Linked DNA regions of Homo sapiens. The protein of the gene in region 1 purifies or fractionates together with the protein of each later gene. This does not show direct contact. Each region holds a gene or a part of one and is shown in the gene's direction. Other genes may lie near its edges.

Region 1 (3,170 bases):
GAACCAGCTGATTCAGAAGAAGCTGGCAGACATGCTCACTGAGATTACCCTGGGCCTTCACGCCTGCCTGCAGCTCGGCCGCTTGAAGGACCAGGACAAGTAGGGGCTGTGTGGTGGGGGCGGGGGGATGGCAGCGGTGGCTGGAGGACCTTGTGTCCTTCCTGGAGAGAAAGGTCCTTCCTGCCTGGTGGCCCTGGGGACCTGAACCTTCTGCTGTCCCTCTTGTCCTTGATGGGCTGGGCTGAGGACAGCCCCACTGGTCCCTCATTGGGAGCTTGGCTGCATCAGGGAATCCCCACCCCGGGCTAGGTTTGCTTGGAGCATCGGGATGCCAGGATCCCCAGTCCTTGTTACCCTCATGTGCCACTCCCAGGGCTGCCCCCGAGATGGTTTCTCTGCTGAAGAGGAATAACTGTGGGAAAGCCCTGGACATCGCCCGCCAGGCCCGAGACATGCTGGGGGGGAATGGGATTTCTGACGAGTATCACGTGATCCGGCACGCCATGAACCTGGAGGCCGTGAACACCTACGAAGGTAGGAGCTGGACCTCAGAGGGCTCACTGAGGCCTCAGTGTCTGGGGAGGGGGTACAGGGAGGTGGGACGGGGACAGGTCTGAGTCCAACTCCACCTATCACTAAGTGACAGTGTGACCTGGGGCGAGCCTTACCCCTCTGTCCCTCATCTGGAGTTACTCACATGGGGACTGTGGAAGTGAAGTGCTTCATGCAGCACACAGAGGCCCCATCAGGCCTTGCGAGGGGCTCCCAGCTCTTTCTCCCACATGCTCGGGAGGAGGGATGTTCCTGAGACAGGTAAGCTCCGAAGGCAGCCCAGGGGTGAGGCCCGACTCCTAGCAGGCTGGTGGACGCAAGGGAGTGAGCGAAGCTACACGCAGGAATCAACGCTCCATTTTGTTAAGAGACAAAAGTCATCTTCAGATGACGGTGTTTGCACCCTGTAACTGATGGTGATTTACATGGGGGTCCAGAACCCCTTGCTTGGTGGGAAGACAGATGTGGAAAAAGATACTTAAAAAAAAAAAAAAAGTGCAAACCCAGCATGCGCTATGTAGAAATAGAGGGAGGTATGAGGACCCCCCGGGCAGAGATGCTTCCAGACAGAGAGAACAGCAAATGCAGGAGGGGTGCCTTCCCTGCGCACCTTGCAACCCCAGATCTTGTCTCTATCTGGCATCTGGGGGGTGGGGGGATCCTACAAATGTGAGAATGACCCTGAGGACAAGCAGCGGGCGCCATGAGATGGTTTTATGCAGAGAAGGGATGAGTCAGATTTGGTGCTTTAGGGGCTCGGCGCAGTGGCTCACACCTGTAATCCCAGCGCTTTGGGAGGCTAAGGCAGGAGGATTGCTTGAGCCCAGGAGTTAGAAGTTATGATGAGCTATGATCACCCCACTGCACTCCAGCCTGGGTGACAGAGTGAGACCCTATCTATATTTAAAAAAAATAGGTTTGTACTTTAGGAAGTAAACAGAATTGGCTCTAAAAAGGAGGCTACAATCTGCCTTCTGCTTCAAGGAGCTGGGGAGGAGCAAAGGATGAGACACCAGGGCATGGGGTGTGGGATTCTCTGGGAGAGGCGGCTTCAGATGGGCAGAGGTCAGCTGAGGCAAGTGACTGCTCTTCCGATGTGCTGTCCCTCCTATCCCTCCCGAGGGTAAGAAAGGGCTTGCTGTGTTTCCTTGGAGCTCAGGGGTGCTTTCAGCCTCTGTGGCAAGGAAGCGTGGCCAGGTTGAAAATCAAACATTTAATAAACTGTGGGGCTGGGGGTGGGGAGAACTTGCCAAGGGTGGGGAGCACGAAGCCTGGGCCTATGGCAGGGGCTGGACTTGCTACATTTTGGGAGTTCAGCACAAGGAGCTTTGGGTTTTTGTTTTTTTCTGCCAAGATGCATTATAGAACCATGAAAAACAATTTCTCAGTGTGGCCCAAATGGTGGCCTCACAGTCTTCTCCTGGAGACTGTCACTAAGGCGTGAGTCTCCCGGCAGCTGTCAGCATTCACCATCTCTGTTGGTCTGTACTTCTGAAGCAGTGGCCTGGGGATACATGAAAATTGATTTTAAAGGGAAGTTGTGAGCTATGAAAACTCCAAACCGACTCTGTATTAATCTTGTCCAGGTACACATGACATTCACGCCCTGATCCTTGGGAGAGCTATCACGGGAATCCAGGCGTTCACGGCCAGCAAGTGAGCCGCTCCATCAGGGGCCCGAAACTCTCAAGCCCCTTTCTGGAGAGATGCCTGGCTGGACCGTAGGAGCGCTGTGCTCTGAGCTTAGAAAGGGAGGTGGCGGATGGAGTGGGAAGTGAGAGACACTGATTTTTAAATATCAAAATTTCCCTTCTGAAGTCGTTCAGATGTGTTCCTTAAAAAGAAGATGGAATTCTCTGTAGAGCGTCTCAATCCACTTTTAACCATGGATGAGAGCAGACTCCATTTACCCTGAAATAGCAGCTTCTCTTGAGAGGAGAGTGACATGGAAGCAACTCCGTCTGCTGCAGCTGACCCCCTCACACTGAGTTCACAGTGCGCCCTCCCTCCCTCCCATCTGGGGGTAGTGCCTTATGCTGGGTGTTGGAGCAGAGTGAGGGAGAGGAAAATAAAGACCTGCACATCTGACCCCAAGGTGTCAGGCCGGTTTACTGGTAACCACCTGAGAAGTAGTTTCAGCCACAGAAGAAACGAACACGTCTGGGGGCTGTGAGTTGCCGGGACGTGGTGGGGACTTTCCCCTAGAGTGGTCTGGCCCCCATCTGAGTCTTAGGCTCTGCTGTAAAAAAGAAACCCAGGTTAGCAGTGCCGGTCTGTGCCAGGGCTGTGGGCAGAGGGGATGATTTCTGAGTGGCAGGGGTGCAAGGGACTTTGTCCTTTCTGTCACCACAGAGCTGCTCATACAACAGTGGGACATGACAACGGTTTGGCTTCTCAGCTCAGACACACCATGTTATAGGGGATCACAAACAAGATGGTGAGTGCACCAAGGGCTTTGCAGGGACTGTGGCCTGGCGGGGTCAGGGCTGGGTGCCTGGTTTCTGTTCACATTTACTCTTGGCTGGGCCATCCCTGTCCTCTTCCTCAGGCAGCGCCCCCCCTGTGAGTTTACTCATACCTCAGGCTGGAGACACAGGTCTTTGTACACAGTCTCCACG
Region 2 (3,831 bases), on another chromosome or scaffold:
ACTTTTTTAAGTGAAGTGGAGATAGTTTACAAAATAAATGTTAACTCTTTTTTTTTTCAATAGCAACAAAAGCACAGATTTATTGAAATGAAAGTACACTCCACAGAGTGGGAGCGGGCTCGAGCAAGTGGCACTCGAGCCATGATGAAGTCCTAACTAGTGGAGTTAGGAATGCTTTGTATGTTGATAGTCAAGTGCTTTACTAATCCAAAAGCCTTATTTTCATTGTATTTCCATTCATATTGGCTAATCTCTGGAAAATTACTCAAAGTTTTTATTAATAGTTGGTATTTCAAGCTTTTTAAACAAAAGTCTAAGGAATCATTTAATGAATGTTGATATTCTACATATTTTAATACTGAAGTGTGACATGATTTTTCCCTGAGTACTGTTAAGTTTAGCCTGAAGCTCCCACCTTATGTATTTTAAACTTGGCCTAAAAGTTTCTCTGTACACAGTAAACTGTAACCTAACTGGTTGTGTAAACAGACTGCAACCTACTCTTGTGCTAATCACTGAGGTTCAGCCAATTAAAGGCAACCAGTTGTTCAACCTGTGTTCAAGTAAGGCTGACCCTGAGCTGTAACTGACCCGTCTGTTTCTGTACCTCACTTCCGTTTTCTGTGTGTCACCTTCCTTTTTCTGTCCGTAAATAATTTTCGACTATGCACCAGCACCAGTGTCTTTGAACCTATTCTTGTTCCAGGACTGCCCAATTCTTGAATCCGTCTTTGCTCAGTTAAACTCCGTTAAATTTAATTGTCTAAGGTTTTTCTTTCGTAATACTATCTTGAATTAGTCACACGTTCACTGATCTAACAAAGAAAGAATGTAAATTAGAAAATTAAGTAGTATCAGGGACATATAGTATTTATATAATTCTAAATACACGGTAATGTCTAATATTATGTAGCTTGTGTGTTTTTCATCCAATTTTAAACATCAGGTCTTTAGACTTTGATTCCTTTCATTTTCAAATTTCTAATGAAATGATTTTGGTAATTGGTAATTATTTTTTTGTACCAGAGAAAGAAAATGTACAAATAAACTTTCAGGAATGTAATTAACTATATAACATCAAAGGAGAATCAGTGCATTAAAAAGCCAAATTTTTGGCTGTTCCTATTTATACATGTGGCTTAAAGATCTTTATAAAATAAAGATGGATATTTATTCTAAAAGGGTACATAGGGGTGTATGTGTTAAATAGCCACATTTTAGTTTGTTTGAATCAAGACTCAAATGGAATTGTAAAGGGACAGAATCTTATTAAAAACAACATGAAAATGACTTGCCGGCCATTGATTTGTACAGCTTGGATGGCAAGTGTTAAAATAATGGTTATCTAGAAATTGTAGAACCCTATTTTATGATACTATTATGTAAGAGAGTGTTGGCAAGTTATTTAATGGAGCAGGTTTAAGTCATGTGAGACTTACAAATATTTGCATAGAAACTGAATCCCAGTGGTGGCATGTGGAAATAATTTTTTAAAGGATATGCTTAGGCTATTTAAAAGTTATTTAGTATCAGATTTCAGATCCCATTTTAGAGCTGACGTGAATTTGAAAACATGCCAAGCTTTATGTTATAGTCTACATTACAACTTTAGTCTCAATGGAATCTAAATACTGCCTTGTGAGTTCTGTGAAAAAATTTAATATAGCATAACAGACAGAAATGATTGTCTTGTACTTTCTGAAATAAGTGATACTGCTTCTTCCTCCACATTAGTGAAAAAAGACTGAGGAAGGGGCTTTTATAAGCAAAACCATTTATACATTTGAACACTCTAGGAGTTGTCATTTTAAAATTAGTTCTCAAATAATGAGATACAACTGTTTATTATATAATCAAAACACTACATGAAAACAGGAAAACTGTTAAAATAGTACTATAACTGTTACTTGTATTTGATTATTATAAACTCCTGGGAAAATGGGATAAATACTGTATTAAAAAGAAGATATCTTCCCACTCAGTACCAAAAACTTCCAGATGTAAGTAAAAATTTAAGTGTAAAACATAAAACCATAAAAGTAGTATAAAAAATACGTGAAGTAAATATAGAATATTAGAATGATTCCCATTTCTAGCAGGTACCTAAAACAATAAATAAAAAGACTTCATTTAATTACATAAAAATCCATAGGGTTTTTATATAAGAGAATAAAATTTGAAAGCAAACTAAAAGAGAAGTTTGAAATATATATGACAAATGCCTAATACTCTGATTATATGATGAGTACTTATAAATAAAAAATTTGTAGTTCATAGAAGAAATACAAATAGCTCAAAATTTATAAATGATTCAATCTTAAGAGCAAAAAAGAAAAAAAAAGATGAGATCTTTTTATTCATCAAATTGGCAACTATGGCCGGGCACAATGGCTCACACCTATAATCTTAGCACTTTTGGAGGCCGAGGCGGGAGGATTGCATGAGCTTAGGAGTTTGAGATCAACCTGGGCAGCATAGACTTTGTACAACAACAACAACAATAACAACACTCAAGATATGGTGCAAATACTGTAAGAAGCTCAGAAATGGACAGTTTGACATTATGTATTCACATATTCACATTGTATCCTTTGAAGCAGCATCTCTACTTACAATAATTTATCTGTTGGAATAATAGAGAATGTGAATAACGATTTAGTTACAAAGAAGTTCACTAGTGTGCTATTTGTAATAGCATACTGTTGGAAGCTATCTGATTTTTCAATAATTAAGGTGATGAGATTGCAGTGTTTTTTTTTTACTGCTTTTATGTGAGCTATATCATTTCAAGATAATGTAAATAGAAAATAAAAAAAAACCTCAGTTGAGCTCATAGTAAATACTACTAAATATTTACTCTCTGCTCCAGTTTTCTGATTGATAAATTGTGGATAATAATAGTACTTACTCATAGGGATGTTGGGACAACTGAGTTAGTATATGAAAAGCACTTAGAAGGCCAGGCTCTGTGGCTCATGCCTGTAATCCTAGCACTTTGGGAGGCCAAAGTGCGTGAATCACTTGAGCCCAGGAGTTTGAGACCAGCCTGGGCAGCATGGCAAAACCCTGTCCCTACTGAAAAATACAAAAATTAGCTGGGTGTGGTGGCACATGCCTGTAGTCCTAGCTGCTGGGGAGGCTAAGTTGGGGGATTGCTCGAGCCCAGCAGGTTGAGGCTGCAATGAGCCATGATCACGTCACTGCACTCCAGCCTGGGCAACAGGGTGAGACCCTATTTCAAAAAAAAAAAAAAAAGCACTTACAATAGTGGTTGGCATGTAATGAGTGCTAACTGATGTTTGCTGGTATTAATTCACAAAATGTCCCTGAAATATAACATAGAAAATCATGGTTTGTTGTGTGTATGTTACAGATACATATATAAAAGAGGCCGAGTGTGGTGGCTCACACTGGTAATCCCAGCACTTTGGGAGGCTGAGGCAGGTGAATCAGTTGAGGCCAGGAGTTCAAGACCAACCTGGCCAACGTGGTGAAACCCTGTCTCTACTGAAAAAACAAAACCCACAAAAATTAGCCAGGCGTGGTGGTGCACGCCTGTAATCCCAACTACTTGGTAGGCTGAGGCAGGAGAATTGCTTAAACCCAGGAGGCAGAGGTTGCAGTGAGCTGAGATTGCGCCGCTGCTCTCCAGCCTGGGCAACAGAGCAAGGCCTTGTCTCAAAAAAAAAAATTTTTTTTTAATTTTAAAGTATGTGTATATATATATATGAATATGATATGTGGTTAATTTGGAATATGAAAATTACCTGACTTTAAGAAACTGGCCTACTTGAAAGTAAGTGATCAAAGGATCGCCTTATAAAAAGATAC

Evidence for each region. The genes of interacting proteins can lie anywhere in the genome.
Region 2: the proteins of GCDH (region 1) and KLHL8 purify together in Homo sapiens (affinity purification with mass spectrometry; one large-scale study listed by BioGRID and IntAct). This does not show direct contact.

What each region holds. Positions count from the first base shown.
Region 1 is NC_000019.10:12,897,330-12,900,499, forward strand, and holds the end of GCDH (glutaryl-CoA dehydrogenase, mitochondrial isoform a precursor), read left to right. Parts: coding exon 1-99; intron 100-373; coding exon 374-534; intron 535-1,456; exon of another isoform or gene 1,457-2,011; coding exon of another isoform or gene 2,012-2,056; intron 2,057-2,138; coding exon 2,139-2,212; 3' UTR 2,213-2,370; coding exon of another isoform or gene 2,371-2,414; 3' UTR 2,415-2,670; downstream 2,671-3,170. Other genes in the region: SYCE2 (synaptonemal complex central element protein 2), read right to left, coding at 2,012-2,056, 2,675-2,791, 3,131-3,170. UniProt on the Homo sapiens protein: Catalyzes the oxidative decarboxylation of glutaryl-CoA to crotonyl-CoA and CO(2) in the degradative pathway of L-lysine, L-hydroxylysine, and L-tryptophan metabolism. It uses electron transfer flavoprotein as its electron acceptor. Isoform Short is inactive.
Region 2 is NC_000004.12:87,185,906-87,189,736, reverse strand, and holds part of KLHL8 (kelch-like protein 8), read left to right. Parts: intron 1-3,831. UniProt on the Homo sapiens protein: Substrate-specific adapter of a BCR (BTB-CUL3-RBX1) E3 ubiquitin ligase complex required for The BCR(KLHL8) ubiquitin ligase complex mediates ubiquitination and degradation of RAPSN.